2 separate regions of the Homo sapiens genome follow, and region 2 is linked to region 1. A link means that fine-mapping ties the variant in region 1 to the expression of a gene that starts in the linked region. Tissue or cell type: whole blood. Region 1 holds a variant in brackets; the other region holds the start of a gene. All regions are shown on one strand. Distances are between the middles of the regions.

The links. PIP is the estimated chance that this variant, and not a neighbour inherited with it, causes the effect.
Region 2: it holds the start of GCLC, and the variant in region 1 is fine-mapped to the expression of GCLC in whole blood (TOPMed, PIP above 0.99).

Annotation. Positions count from the first base shown.
Region 1 is chr6:53,497,496-53,500,234 of GRCh38, reverse strand. GCLC (glutamate-cysteine ligase catalytic subunit) reads left to right here. Exons shown (of 16, transcript NM_001498.4): 15 at 70-190; 16 at 1,268-2,739. The coding sequence ends at 1,479. All of the region lies in intron 3 of GCLC-AS1 (GCLC antisense RNA 1), which reads right to left. Among named protein-coding and RNA genes, the nearest start is that of GCLC, 46 kb to the left of the region's middle. The variant AGCCC/C (reference allele first, on the strand shown) is at 1,542.
Region 2 is chr6:53,544,018-53,546,628 of GRCh38, reverse strand. It overlaps GCLC (glutamate-cysteine ligase catalytic subunit), which reads left to right and starts at 1,528. Exons shown (of 16, transcript NM_001498.4): 1 at 1,528-2,133. The coding sequence starts at 1,984. RefSeq lists a silencer at 1,555-1,984 and enhancers at 2,205-2,264, 2,103-2,611.

The DNA of each region.
Region 1 (2,739 bases):
CCCTGTACAGTACCCCTCACTGTGCACATCCCCCGGCAGGGAGTTCATAAAGTGTCCTGCTTCTTGTAGGAAGGTGTGTTTCCTGGACTGATCCCAATTCTGAACTCTTACCTTGAAAACATGGAAGTGGATGTGGACACCAGATGTAGTATTCTGAACTACCTAAAGCTAATTAAGAAGAGAGCATCTGGTATGATATCTATTTTTCTTAATCTCATAATATAGACAGCATGGTATAATCTTAGAATGTTCAATTTCTTAAAGTAGTCTTTTAAAATAATGCTGTATTCATGCACAGTTTCACATTTTTATATTTCTGCAATTGTATTCACCTTATAATCTTTGACACTCATAATTTAGATTAGTAGTGCTTTTTTTCTTATCAGTTCATAAAATAGGGGTGCATCTGAAAATCACTGGCATCTTAGATGATGAAATGGCATCTGGATTGCTTACTTATCATTTACGTCCAACTGTGTTGATCTTACATCATCATGGGCCCTTTTATAGGGCTAAGGAACTCTGTAAGTTAAATAAGCTGAACAGTTCTTTAGCCTGCCTTTGTACATACAGTGAGGCTCCTGAGAATCCCCTTTCTTTGTTAGTTTTGAGGAGGTTACATTTACAATACAGTACAGTAACCAAGTACTGCTAACACAGTACTTGGCACAAGGGAGCTGTCAGCTGTTAATAAAGTGACAGCAATAATGGTAATGGCATCTGTATTTAACTCAAGGCTTCTGTAAACTTTCTGGAGTCACAAAGGATAGCCGTAGAACCCTACCTCACCCCTCAAATGGTATACTGCCAATTTCCCACTTCATTCACTCTACTTACTGTTCTTTATTCTCTCCACCTCTTTGATCAAAGATCGCTCAAGGACCCTACAGTCCTCTGAGGCAGTCTCATGACACTGGCATTTGTAGTCCTAGCCCTCTGGCCAAATGGGAGGGCACATGTTCTTGTACACATGTGCTGGCTCCTGTTCCTTAAGAGCTGGCAGTGTCAGCATATGGGTGGCATCTAACAGGTACCATAGAAACTGGATGTATGTGTTCTCATTGCCTGCCTGCAACCTAGAATTCCTGCCCAGGAGGAGTTCTTCAAACGCTATGAAAGATGTTCCCACCCCCTGCCATGCAGCTACACTAAAAGGACATATTGATTTCTCTCCAGAATTGTGTTTATGCTGACCACTAAATATCAACTTATTAAAAAAAAAACTTACGTGGTTTTAATTTTTTTTTCGCTCCCCCCTCGCCCACAGGAGAACTAATGACAGTTGCCAGATGGATGAGGGAGTTTATCGCAAACCATCCTGACTACAAGCAAGACAGTGTCATAACTGATGAAATGAATTATAGCCTTATTTTGAAGTGTAACCAAATTGCAAATGAATTATGTGAATGCCCAGAGTTACTTGGATCAGCATTTAGGAAAGTAAAATATAGTGGAAGTAAAACTGACTCATCCAACTAGACATTCTACAGAAAGAAAAATGCATTATTGACGAACTGGCTACAGTACCATGCCTCTCAGCC[AGCCC/C]GTGTGTATAATATGAAGACCAAATGATAGAACTGTACTGTTTTCTGGGCCAGTGAGCCAGAAATTGATTAAGGCTTTCTTTGGTAGGTAAATCTAGAGTTTATACAGTGTACATGTACATAGTAAAGTATTTTTGATTAACAATGTATTTTAATAACATATCTAAAGTCATCATGAACTGGCTTGTACATTTTTAAATTCTTACTCTGGAGCAACCTACTGTCTAAGCAGTTTTGTAAATGTACTGGTAATTGTACAATACTTGCATTCCAGAGTTAAAATGTTTACTGTAAATTTTTGTTCTTTTAAAGACTACCTGGGACCTGATTTATTGAAATTTTTCTCTTTAAAAACATTTTCTCTCGTTAATTTTCCTTTGTCATTTCCTTTGTTGTCTACATTAAATCACTTGAATCCATTGAAAGTGCTTCAAGGGTAATCTTGGGTTTCTAGCACCTTATCTATGATGTTTCTTTTGCAATTGGAATAATCACTTGGTCACCTTGCCCCAAGCTTTCCCCTCTGAATAAATACCCATTGAACTCTGATGGCTGTTATCAAAGGAACTTTTCTTTGTTTAAATTTGCTGATGCAGGAATTAAGTTTAAACACAACTCTATAGAAAGAAAGGAGATTATTACCCAGAATTCACATGTAGTGATTATTAAGGACAATTTTTTTTTTTAACTAAAAAAGTTGGCGGCAGGGGTGGGGGGTGGCAATCATTTTTCTTCCTATACATACAAAGGATATTGTCAAAAATGGCGTTCTTCTCTTGTGGCCTGTTATTCTGATTGCTGCTGTATACAGTTTTGTCACTCTTTAGTTTTTAGTTAAGCATACTGATAGACTTTCCTCTAAAAGCCATTCACTCCAGATTTTACCTGGGGAATATTCTACATACTGCTTACTTTCTCTATAAAACTCATCAATAAATCATGAAAGGCACTGAGTTTTGTAAATCAGGACCCTAAATGTTTAATTGTAAATAAGTTTCAGATAATTATTATAGCTTTGCGTTGAAGTTTGTTGTTTTTTTTCTCAACTAGTTAAGTCAACTGCTTCTGAAATAACTCTGTATTGTAGATTATGCAGATCTTTACAGGCATAAATATTTAAACTGTAATATGCTAACTTGAAGAGATTGCAATAAAGCTGCTTCAGCTAACCCTGTTTATGTTTAAATACTAGGGT
Region 2 (2,611 bases), 46 kb before region 1:
CACACACTCTATACCAAGCACTTTTCTAGAATTAAAGGTACAAAAGGCATAAGTCATCTGTGCCCCAGAGGAATTCACTATTTAGTGTGGAGCTATCTTTAAAATGACTCTATCATTAATGTACGAATGCAACCAAAACACAGAGAGGAATAACTGTGACTCAAGAGATGAACATGAGTGTGTCAGATGGAGAATTTCAAGCAGGAAAAACAACAGAGTGCCAGAACCATATACAGATCTGGTGAGGTTGGTGGGAGGGCAAAGGAGGTTGTTGAAAAGGCTGTGGAAAAATTAGAATGTGGTTTGATTTCTATCCCACCTGTGTGATGAGGATGGAAACATCTTCTCCTGAGCTTCAAACATCCCTACCACACACAGACACACACACACAGACACACAGACACACACACACACCATTGTGGAAATCCCAGCCAGACCTTGGGTATTCATGCCCCCAAGCCCTGTGAGGGGCACATCCAATATGAAGGCTGTGGGAGAAGAGAATCCTGCTATCATGTACTCACTCATTTAGCAATTAATAAGTGCTTACTAAATGTTAACTCTGTAGTGCGAGGGAAGAGGGTATGATAAATACACACTTTCTGGGTAGGTACATGTATGATCTAGTTGCCTTCACTTTTCCCCTGACAGGTCATTGCTCTGTCAACACATATTTATTAAACAATCACTTGGGGGCACGGTACCTCCTTCCTCTCCTTTCCCTCCGAGATAAGGCCAACTCTAGGTGTTCCCACTATCTTCAACCCCACCCCACGGTAGGCTCACAAGAACGTCATTTTGATCACTTAAGGGATGAATTTTAGGTTTAGATGGAGGATAAACTTTTGGAGATGGTTCCTCATATGGTCTGTCTGGAGACTTTTTGCAATAAATGGTGTCCGTGCCATCCAGAGAACATAGGTCACCAGTTAATCAAGACAGTAGGGAATAATGATTTACACATGTTGACAAATTGATTCCTCTTAATAACCAGGTCAATTTTTTGGCCAACACTATACACATGTACACTATGCACATAATTACGACATCTATAAAAGATAGAATTAATCTAATTTTATGCAGATATGGGAAGAACTCGTCCCAAGTCTCACAGTCAGTAAGTGATGGAGCCTAGAGTTGAACTGTTTCACTTCACTACCATGTTAATACTTTTCTCAACACATTCTGCCGCTCTCACTCTAAGTGTGAGGCCCTGTCCAACTAAAACATAATATGGTGAGTTCGTCATTGATTCAAATAATCAACTTTCTTCCCGAATCCCAAGTTTATCTCTTCTGATTAGGAAAAAAAATGCATTTTGATATGTCGCGTTTGCGTAAAGCGAGGCCGACCGCACGCCCCCTTCTCGCGAGCTGCTCCCCTCAACTGCGACCCAATCACCCTTGCACACGCCTCCTGAGCCCCCGCGGTTCCCACCGGGCTTCAGGCCACGCCTCCGCCGCTGCACCGCCTCCTCTCCCCGCCTTCGCCCGTAGTCTATAAAACCTGGAGCGCAGGATCGCGCCCAGGAGCGGCGAGCTAGCGGACGCAAAGACTGGGCATGCTCCGCGGCGGCGCAGGTTTTGGTCACAAGTAGGAAGAAGCCAGTGCACCAGACCGGCAAAGAGAAGCGGGAGCCGCCGCGGCAGCGCGGCCGTGGGGTCCGCCGCCGCCGCATCGGAGCGGGAGGAGGAGCAGCGGGGAGGGCGAGGCCGCCGGGCCGAGAGCCGTCCCGCCTGCTCTCGGTCTTCTGCCTTCGCCTCCGCGCGGTGCGTCGGACCCAGGGTCTGTCACCTGGGCGCCAGGGGCCGCCGCCGGGGAGCCGGAGCGGGCAGGACCCTCCCTCCGCCGACTGCGGCCCGAGAGCGCCCCCGCGGGGTGGAGCGGCAGCCGCCTTCTGCGGGCGGCTGAGTGTCCGTCTCGCGCCCGGAGCGGGCGACCGCCGTCAGCCCGGAGGAGGAGGAGGAGGAGGAGGGGGCGGCCATGGGGCTGCTGTCCCAGGGCTCGCCGCTGAGCTGGGAGGAAACCAAGCGCCATGCCGACCACGTGCGGCGGCACGGGATCCTCCAGTTCCTGCACATCTACCACGCCGTCAAGGACCGGCACAAGGACGTTCTCAAGTGGGGCGATGAGGTGAGCGCCCGCGGTCCCCGTCCCCGCCGGGCACCCGTGTCTGGCCGCCCGCGCTGCCTTTGTCTTGCCCTACGCCCCCGGCCCTATCGCGGTCCGCGTTCTCCACTGCGCCCGGGGGTCCTCGAGCGCCTCCCGGCCCCGGGAGCATCGTCCCTGCTTTCGCCTAGTCCGCGTCCAGGGCCATCCTCCTGACTAGACTCCTTTCTTGTTCATTCATTCTTTTGGGTTTTCCCCTTCATTCCATAAACACGGATTGGGCGCTGGGAGGGCGTGAGCATGAAAAAGTGACATTAGGTGCTGCGAGTCTTCAACCTAGTGTATCTGCAGACCGGCAACTACCATGATCCACCTTACAGGCTCAAAATTCGCTTTTGCGGTCAATATGAAAGAGATTTAAGTTTTCCTAGTAGGCCTGCTGCTTTTAGAAATCAGGTCTTCAGGATGTCCACTTCTGCCCTACCTCATGCAGGTGTCTTTT